2 separate regions of the Homo sapiens genome follow, and region 1 is linked to region 2. Evidence: fine-mapped expression QTL. A gene starts in region 2. The other region holds a variant in brackets. All regions are shown on one strand. Distances are from middle to middle.

Region 1 (5,000 bases), 42 kb after region 2:
GTCGCGTGCTCCAGCCTTGCTTTTAGGATGTTTCCTCTGAGAGACCAGCCCGGCAGCTCACAGGGTGGGCAGATTGCTTTCCTTTCTTTTAGTGGAGGAAGGGTAATTGTTTTACTTACTGGCAGTGAGTAATAGAGTAAAAAAAAAAACCCCAAAAAACAAAAAGCAGTGGATAATTGGGGAAAGTGGAGTCTGTGAGAGAACAGCACCAGCTCACGCTTGACCCAGGCTCGTGAGCCACAGAAATGATGGAATTCTCTCCTTGGTTGCTGGAGCTGGCAGTCTCATGGGTCCCAGCTCTCCCAGAAGGGGGTGAGGCTAGGCTGTCCTTCCTTATAAGCATGTGGCTGCTGTGGCCAGAGCGTGCTGGGGCCCACCCGCCTCTGCATTTGCACGATCGGCGCCCGGACACGCGAGATCGCACGGGCAACGCACTCCTCGGCTCTTCCCGCTCCTGAGCGCCCCTCCCGGGGTCTTGGCGTCTCTCTCCTCCCCTGCACTTCGGTTTTGAAGCAAATCCCAGGCCCGTGGCATTTCAGCTGTCCGTCCCTCCGGGCAGCGCCCTAAGAAAGGGGGTGTTTCCTGCATCTCCGTGTCACTGCCACACCTGACAAAAGTGGCACACGGTCCTTGTGTTGCCTGTTGCCCAGGCCATGGGATGCTTCCCTGATCATCTCAAAGCCTCCTTTGAATGGCAATTTGTTCAGCTCAGGACGCGAACGAGGCCCTTGCACTGCTGTTGTTCACTCTTTCCTGTTGGGAGATGCACCCCCTTTCCCTCTGTCTGGTCGGCACCTCACCCCGTGTCACTTTCTGGATTATTCTGCCTCCTCCTGGTGTCCACCTGCATCTCAGAGCTGGAAGATAGTGCTGGGATTCGAGGCACCTCGAGGGTGGGCGTGCAGGTCCCATGTGCTGGTCTGGCAGGAGCTTCTCTGTGCCATTGCAGTGCGGGGAGCCGTGCGGGGCCGCCCTTGCTCTGGCCCGGGAGCCACTCATGGACCTTTGCCCATCTCCTCCTGTAGGTGGACGGCCTGTTCATCATCGGGTGGATGTACCTGCCTCCCCATGACCCCCACGTCGATGACCCTATGAGATTCAAGCCTCTGTTCAGGATCCACCTGATGGAGAGGAAGGCTGCCACAGTGGAGTGCATGTACGGCCACAAAGGGCCCCACCACGGCCACATCCAGGTGTGTGCAGCGGCGGGGCTGGGTCCTCACTGTCCCAGGGCTGTCCTGTGTGGGCTCCAGCCAGGCCTGCCGTGCTATTCTCAGCTGCAGACCTGGGCTGTAGCAGATCGGCGGGTGGGAGGGAGGCTCCGCCCTGCCCTGCTGTGCATTGTTTACGCCTCCGTGGCGCAGTGGACTCTGCAGCGGTCACTTGCTGGACCCCTCTTGATTCTGCTCTCAGTTAGAGCCGCTGTTTCTTTGCAACTTCAGTTCCTCTGTCTTTTTTTCCTGTTTGCAAGAATATCAGTGTGGAATCAAGTGCGCTCTCTGTTCTCTGATCTGGTCTGGCAGTGGCCCCCACGGTGAGCACAGCGTGTCATCTGCCACACCTTGTGTGTGAGATGCAGCCCTTTTGCTGCTCTGTGTCACGCTGGGAAATGCAAACGCCACTCTCTCAGATGTGCCACTGCCTCCTGCTCTTGGGGGAGTGTTGCTCAGGGAGACTCAGCTCCCTCCGCTGGCACCGCGTTGGTCGCATCTTGGGTGCCTGCAGTGGGGTTTGGTGGGTGTGGTGAGGGAGGGGTCGTGGCCACCTGCCTGGGGTGGGGGATGCTGTGATGGACTCTGTTCCTCACTCTTCTCTTTCCTTGTGTTGCAAACACTGAAGATTGTGAAGAAGGATGAGTTCTCCACCAAGTGCAACCAGACGGACCACCACAGGATGTCCGGCGGGAGGCAGGAGGTGAGCCCACCAGCCGGCCCTGTGTTCATATGGTGCGGACCTTTCCTTTCCCCACGGGGAAAGTACAGACCCATGCGGGAGAGAAGTCAGCAGCATGCGACCTGCATGGTGGCTGTTTCACATGGTTCAGCCGGTATTGTCAGTGCAGACCGTGCATCCGGCACACTCGAGGAACAGCATCGTGCGGGCGGGCAGGTTGCC[G/A]GTCCCCTCCCCCTGCAGAACGAACGAACCACACAGGCCGTTTCTTCAGTTAGCTCTGCTTTGCCCCTCTGGCGGGCACATCCACTTGCTGAGGGGTTGCTGGGAGGCTGCTTCTAGGATGTGAGCTGCAGGGAGACCCGAGGGCTGCACCCAGAGTTCCTGTGTTTCCCATCCTTGAGCAGACCGTGTGGAGGCTTCCGGATCGTGCCAGTGCAGCGGGGAAGCCTGTGTGTGATTGTTTGCCTGAGTATTTTAATATTGCCCTTGAGTTTTAGCTTTCAAGGATCTAAGTCTTACTGCCCTCTCAAAATACTCTTAAGAAGGAAGGTGCGGTGGCTCACACCTGTATTCCCAGCTCTTTGGGAGGCTGAGGCAAGAGGATCACTTAAAGTCAGGAGTTCAAAACCAGCCTGGGCAACATAGTGAGACCCTGTCTCTACAAAAACCAAAAATATTAGCTGGGTATGGTGGCATGCCAGCTACTCAGGAGGCTGAGGTGAGAGGATTGTCTGAGCCCAGGAGGTGGAGACTGCAGTGAGCTATGAGCGCACCACCGCACTCCCATGTGGGTGGCAGAGTGAGACCCTGCCTCAAAAGGAAAAACAAAAAATTAGCCAGGCATGCTACCATGCTACGGGGTTATGCCATGTTGCCCAGGCTGGTCACAAACTCCTGGGCTCAAGCCGTCTTCCCACCTTGACCTCCCAAAGTGCTGGGATTGCAGGTGTGAGCCATCGCGCGCGGCCAGGGTGTGCTTTTCTTAGCTAGTTTGAGTTGTGGTGGTTTCCCCATCAGCCAGAGGACTGCAGAGAAGGTTGAGATGAACCAAATGTCCTGTTTCTCGGAATTCTTTGCAAGTAAGTGACGTTCCTGTTTTCTTGAATAGATGGCATGTGAAGATGATCAGTAACGGAAATGTTTTAATTATGCTGTTATTTTAGATTTGATTTTATATACAGAAACACAACGTATGTGTGTGATTGCTGTGGTTCAATTTTTTTTTTTTTTTTTTTTTTTTTTGAGACGGAGTCTCGCTCTGTTGCCCAGGCTGGAGTGCAGTGACGTGATCTTGGCTCACTGCAACTTCCGCCTTCCCGGTTCAGGCAGTTCTACTGCCTCAGCCTCCTGAGGAGCTGGGCTTAGAGGCACCTGCCACCATGCCTGGCTAATTTTTGTATTTTTAGTAGAGATGGGGTTTCACCATGTTGGCCAGGCTGGTCTCGAACTCCTGACCTCAGGCGATCCACCCATCTCGGCCTCCCAAAGTGCCGGGATTACAGGTGTGAGCCACTGCTCCTGGCCTTATGGTTCACATTTAAGTGAAAAATGTCAACAGATTTTTCAAGAATAGAAACTCCTCAGCTGTTGAGCCCTTAAAAAAGAAAACCATATTACATTTCTGGTACTATATACTTTGGGATTAGGAAAAGTTTCTGTAAGCCTACTTCTGTGTGTGGGCTCACTGATTTTGAACTGGAGTAGTGTTTTTCCTGATTGTAAATATAACAACATGTGCTCCTTGTGGAAATGAGAGAAACACCCAGGAGTGAGGGTGAGAGGGAAGGTATTGCTGGAATCTTGATGGGGGGAGTTTATGTTTCCCTTATTCTGAGTGAGACCAGCCTAGTGTCTTGGGATCAGGAGCTCTCTGTGGTTTTATGAACTGTTTCATGAACTGTCTGGTCATAGCCTGTGCCTCTGTTTCTGTTTGGTGTTGGCGGGTTTCAAGTGGGTTTGTAGGAGCTTGTTAACTATTAGGAAATCGAAGCCCTTCCAGATAGGAGTTGCCAGGTTTTTTTCTTATTCCTTTTTTTTGTCTTTGGATTTCTCTTATGGTGTGTTTTCCATCCATGGAATTTTTTATTTTTAATGTTAATTTTTAAGAGAGAGGGTGTCTCACTTTGTTGCCCAGGCAGGTCTCAAACTCCTGGCTCGAGTGATCTTACCGCCTTGGCCTCCCAAAGTGCTGGGGCTACAGGCATGAGCCACCACGCCCAGCCGTATTTTTAATTTTTACATAAGCAGATGTATCCATCTTTCTTTAAAAGACTCTCAGTTTAGTGCCATCCTGAGATCTCTCCCTGAAGCACATATGTTTACAAATGAGCTCATGCTTTTATTTTTCTCTTGTGTCTGTGTCTGGTTCCGTTGGATCTATTCTGATGTGAAATGTAAGGCTTAGCCCCAGCCTTGGTTCTGTGCAGACCTGATCTGTTATCTCCACACTGGATGCGTGATAACCACACTTCCTACATCAATTTGTAGCGCTGCTTTTGTCCTAGGTTACCCTGTATACTTGGTTCATTTCTGGACTTGATACTCTGATCCATATGTCTGTCCACATGTCAGTACCACACTATTCTCATTCTTATAGTTTTTGTTTGTTTTTGAGATGTAGTCTCGCCCTGTCCCCCACACTGGAGTACAGTGGTATGATCTTGGCTCACTGCAACCTCCGCCTCCTGGGTTCAGGTGATTCTCCTGCCTCAGCCTCACTCCCAAGTAGCTGGTATTACAGGCGCCTGCCACCATGCCTGCCTAATTTTTATATTTTTAGCGGAGACAGGTTTTCCCCATGTTGGCCAGGTTGGTCTCGAACTCCTGACCTCAGGTGATCCGCCCACCTCGGCCTCCCAAAGTGCTGGGATTACAGGCGCGAGCCACCGCGCCCGGCCGAATTCTTGTAGTTTTATCGCTATGTTTTATTTTATTTATGGCTTAGAGATAGGGTCTCACTGTGTTGCCCAGGCTGGGCTCAAGTGATCCTCCTACCTCAGCCTCCCAAAGTGTTGGGATTATAGCTGTGAGCCATTGCACTGGCCTATCACTGTATTTTAATTGCCTGTATTCCTCTTCTATTTTGGAATGTTCCCGGCTCATCTTGT
Region 2 (5,000 bases):
CACATAAAATCGTCCTGCATACAATTCATCTGCATACCACGCTGCTCACTGAAGCCTGAGTTGGCTTCCCAAAACACCACTTTCATCACTGTGTCATTCCCGAATTTGCGAGGGCTTCATCTGTCTTCCACGAGTTCACATTCTAACTCCAACCTATATTTTATCTCTTTTTCTTGTCATTTTTCATTTCCATCCTATATTTTCAGCTTCTGCTCAGACCACACCCTGGACTGAACCAGCCTCCTGTTTCCCTCAGGCCTCCTGAGGTCCCTGATCTCCGGCAAGTGATGCTCCTTCTCACCATCGTCTGTGCCATTGCCTTGAAAACTCCCTTCCTGGCCTCGCCTACTACATGAGCCAGGGACAACCAGCTGTCCTTTTATTCTTTTCTTTTTTTTTTTTGAGAAAGAGTCTTGCTCTGTCGCCTAGGCTGGAGTGCAGTGGCTCAATCTCGGCTCACTGCAACCTCCACCTCCCGGGTTCAAGTAATTCTTCTGCCTCAGCCTCCTGAGTAGCTGGGATTACAGGTGCCCGCCACCATGCCCGGCTAATTTTTGCATTTTTTCAGTAGAGACAAGGTTTCACCATGTTGGCCAGGCTGATCTTGAACTCCCAACCTCAGGTGATCTGCCCGCCTTGGCCTCCCAAAGTTCTGGGATTACAGGTGTGAGCCACCAGGCCTGGCCGCTATCCTTTTTTTCTAGAACATTCTCCCATCAAGTGTTCTCCTCCTGGCTAACTCCAAATTTTCCTTTGATTTATAAATGTCATTTCCTCAAAGAACCTTTGATCATCCAAAGTCTGGTCTCTGCTATAAGATCTTGTTAGTTTTACTTATTGTTAGAGCATTACAATTTATAATTTATGTATTTATCTATGTGGTTACTTGTTTAATGGCTGATCTCCCTGGTAGATAGCAGGATGTTATTAGTTGAAACCATTTTTTTTTTTTTTTGAGACAGAGTCTTGCTCTGTCGCCCAGGCTGGAGTGCAGTGGCACGATCTTGGCTCACTGCAAGCTCTGCCTCCCGGGTTCACACCATTCTCCTGCCTCAGCCTCCCGAGTAGCTGGGACTACAGGCACCTGCCACCACACCTGGCTAATTTTTTGTATTTTTAGTAGAGACGGGGTTTCACCGTGTTAGCCAGGATGGTCTCAATCTCCTGACCTCATGATCTGCCCGCCTCGGCCTCCCAAAGTGCTGGGATTACAGGCGTGAGCCACCGCGCCCGGCCTAATTTTTTAAATTATTTGTAGAGATGGGGGCGTCTCACTATGTGGGTAGGCTGGTCTCCGACTCCTGGGCTTAACCGATCTACCCGCCTCGGCCTCCCAAAGTGCTAGAATTACAGGCGTGAGCCACTGCGCCTGGCCTGTGTGGTTTGTTTGTTTGTTTGTTTGAAGAGACAGGGTTTCACCATGTTGGTCAGGCGGGTCTCAAACTCCTGACCTCAGGTGATGCACCCTTCTCCGCCTCCCAAAGTGCTGGGATTACAGACGTGAGCCACCGCGCCCAGCCATTTGTGGCTATTTTTGTTTTTTGTTTGTTTTGGAGACAGGGTCACGCTGTGTTGCCCAGGCTGAAGTGCAGTGGCACCATCACGGGTCACTACAGCCTCGGCCTCCTGGGATCAAGCGATCCTCCCGTCTCAGCTTCTCTTTCTAAAATTTTGTTTTGTAGACAGGGTCTCGCTGTATTGCCCAGGCCGGTCTCGAGCTCCTGGCCTCGATTGATACTCCCGCCTGGGCCTCCAAGAGATGGGGTCCGAGGCGAGCCCACGGCGACGTGCGCGGCTGCTCAGGTGAGAGGACGCCTTCGCGGTCACCACCCGCGGACCTGGGAGACGACCCCGCTCAGCGGCCTCGGCGGAGCCCAGCTGGAGCAGGCGTGCGCGGCTCCCAGCAGCTGCAGGAACAGGCGCCCTTTGGGCGGCGCCGCATGGCAGGGCCTCCCTTTCCAGACCGGGCGCGCATCCCCGGATCTCTTGGGCCGCGCCGGCCGCCGCCCCTCCAAGCCCTCCCCGGGGCTTCCGCAGGGAGCTCGGGATCCCCGAAGGTCCCTGCAGAGCTCCGCAGCTCGGGCCTTTTGGTTACCATAAGGCGGAGACGATGGAACGCGCGTTGTTTCAATGGACAAAAGGGCTTCTAGGCGCCCTTTGGGGTTCTGGCTGCTGCCTCTGTATTTGGAGGCTGTAAGGCGCATCTTTCTACTCACCGGCCGGCGCGGCACAGTTTCGGGCGCCGGAAGCGGGACGCACGGGCGCGAGGGGCGACCCCTATCTCCACAAAAGCCGCGGCGCGAAGTGGTCGCCGAGCAGCCTCGTTAGCGCAGTAGGCAGCGCGTCAGTCTCATAATCTGAAGGTCGTGAGTTCGAGCCTCACACGGGGCAGTCTAACGTTTTGCACTCGGCATCACCACTTTCTTTTCTCATGCCCGTCACGGGCGGCGCCCTCACGCTGGAGGGGAGGGCAGCAGTGCGGGGTCTCTGAGGTCGCCGCCCCGCGGGGAGGGGGTGGCGCGGCCGGGGCGGAGCTCTACGTAGGGGCGGGGCTAGGCTCTCCAGGGGGCGTGGCGAGCTCTGCGGCGGGGGCGTGGCTCGGCGCTGGCGGGGCGGGGCCGCGCTGGAGCGTGCGCACAGGCGGCAGCAGTGGCCGTCACTGGGCGGCATGGCGGTGTGTGCTCGCCTTTGCGGCGTGGGCCCGTCGCGCGGATGTCGGCGCCGCCAGCAGCGCCGGGGCCCGGCCGAGACGGCGGCGGCCGACAGCGAGCCGGACACAGACCCCGAGGAGGAGCGCATCGAGGCTAGCGCCGGGGTCGGGGGCGGCTTGTGCGCGGGCCCCTCGCCGCCGCCCCCGCGCTGCTCGCTGCTGGAGCTGCCGCCCGAGCTGCTGGTGGAGATCTTCGCGTCGCTGCCGGGCACGGACCTACCCAGCTTGGCCCAGGTCTGCACGAAGTTCCGGCGCATCCTCCACACCGACACCATCTGGAGGAGGCGTTGCCGTGAGGGTGAGCGCGCGGGGGTGGCGGGGCCGGGAGGGGCGGGGGGTCCCTGCCAGGTGGAGGCCTCGGAGCTGGGAGTGGCGGGGGCGGTGGCCCCGGCCGGGGGCCACCAGTTGGGCGCGGGGCCCGGCGATGTGGTGTTTTGGGTGTGGGTGGGGAGCGGCCGCGGTGACACCACGTTGAGGGGGCCAGGGAGGTATTTGAGGCGGTTAGGGAGGGTCCGAGGGGTCCAAGAGAGGCAGACGGGGTAGGGAGGGGTTGAGGGCGTCAGGGAGGCATCGAAGAGGCCCTGACGCGGGGCACGGGACACCACGGGGCCGAGGCCGTGCCGGGAGCTGGGGCTGGGATCCCTCGAGGTCTGCGCGGGGCCTAAGCTGACGCCTGGGGGCCGCCTCCTCTGCCCCTGTCTTGAAGGCGAGCCGAGGGTGCCCCGCTGGCCCTGACCAGAGACGAGGTGAACTTGAAGAAATGGGAGCAGGCCGGGCGCGGTTTCACGCCTGTAATCTCAGCACTTAGGGAGGCCGAGGCGGGCGGGTCACCTGAGGTCAGGAGTTCGAGACCAGCCTGGTGAAGATGGTAAAACCCCGTCTCTACTTACAAAAATACAAAAATTAGCCGGGCGTGGTAGCGGGCGCCTGTAATCCCAGCTACTCGGGAGGGTGAGGCAGAAGAATGGCTTGAACCCGGGAGGCGGAGGTTGCACTGAGCCAACATCTGGGCCATTGCACTCCACCCTAGGCGACAGAGTGCGACTTGGTCTCAAACAACAGCAACAAAAAAAATTACGGGAGTAGGGGAAGCCCAGTGTCGGGGGCTCCTGATGGTGGGGGCGTAGAGAGACGGATGGATCACAGCGGTGCGGGCTGGACTTTTGCCTTCAGCAATATTGGATGTAACAGATCACAGGAGGAGATGTTTATTTAATCTGGAGTTCAAGGCTCTCTCTGTTTAAAGGTTGACAGCTCTTTGATGTTCAAGCAGCTCATATTTAGGTAAAAAGGACAGGTTAGAAAACATCCAAGCGATGCAGAACAGCAAAAGGAACAAAGTAAATACCATCAGAGACCCCAGCAGTCAAAAATAAACCACTCTTAACATTTTAAAAAACCTCTGAGTCGTGTGTACCTTCTTCCCTAAAGGATATAATGCAATATATATTCTCTTAGAGACAGTGTAGTGTAAACAATGCTACATAGTATTTCACTCCCTGCATGTAGCACAGACTCGTCCCTCACTGATAAGCTTTGAAGTCTGCATTTTTTCCATGCATAAACAGTGCTTTGAAGACTGCTTTGTGCATTTTATAGAAATTTAGGAGATTGACATGTATCCTTGGGAACTTCTGAGATTGTCTCGGTGGGATGCACTTCCTTCTTTTTTTTTTTTGAGACGGAGTCTCACTCTGTCACCCAGGCTGTGGAGTGCAGTGGCGCGGTCTTGGCTCACTGCAACCTCCGTCTCCCAGGTTCAAGTGATTCTCCCGCATCAGCCTCCAAGTAGCTGGGACTACAGATGCGTGCCACCGTGCCCGGCTAATTTTTGTATTTTTAGTAGAGACGGGGGTTTCACTATGTTGGCCAGGATGCTCTGGAACTCCTGACCTTGTGATTCACCCGCCTCGGCCTCCCAAAGTGTTGGGATTACAGGCGCGAGCCCCCACGCTGGCTGGTAGGGTGCAGTTCCTCAAGTGGGATTGTGGATTTGTAGGACTGCATGTTGATGAAACCTTTGCAGCCTGTTGTCGGGCTCTTTGAGTTTGCACCCCAAGGAGGTCTGCATGAGAAGAACCCTTTCTCCAAGTCCTCCCGGACAGAGTTCGTCATAAATTATTTTTGTTGCTTAATGGTCGAGGCCCCTGATTTGGAGTCAGCTGACTTGGGCCCCAGCCCAGGCTCGTGTTTATCTGCTGTGAGATCCTGGACAAGCTGCTTCACCTTCCCAAGTCCTGTTGGGAGCATGAGTGGGAAGTGCTGCTCCCGGAGGTGCTTGGAGGGTGAA

Evidence for each region. PIP is the estimated chance that this variant, and not a neighbour inherited with it, causes the effect.
Region 1: its variant is fine-mapped to the expression of FBXO31 in whole blood (TOPMed, PIP above 0.99).

Annotation. Positions count from the first base shown.
Region 1 is chr16:87,339,791-87,344,790 of GRCh38, reverse strand. FBXO31 (F-box protein 31) reads left to right here. Exons shown (of 9, transcript NM_024735.5): 4 at 1,026-1,193; 5 at 1,840-1,914. Among named protein-coding and RNA genes, the nearest start is that of C16orf95-DT, 25 kb to the right of the region's middle. The variant G/A (reference allele first, on the strand shown) is at 2,116.
Region 2 is chr16:87,381,413-87,386,412 of GRCh38, reverse strand. It overlaps FBXO31 (F-box protein 31), which reads left to right and starts at 2,637. Exons shown (of 9, transcript NM_024735.5): 1 at 2,637-3,008. The coding sequence starts at 2,669. It overlaps TRM-CAT6-1 (tRNA-Met (anticodon CAT) 6-1), which reads left to right and starts at 2,319; the gene lies at 2,319-2,391. LOC124903747 (a long non-coding RNA gene) reads right to left here and starts at 2,480. Exons shown (of 2, transcript XR_007065168.1): 1 at 2,217-2,480. RefSeq lists enhancers at 1,529-2,180, 2,181-2,834 and silencers at 2,242-2,901, 3,042-3,281.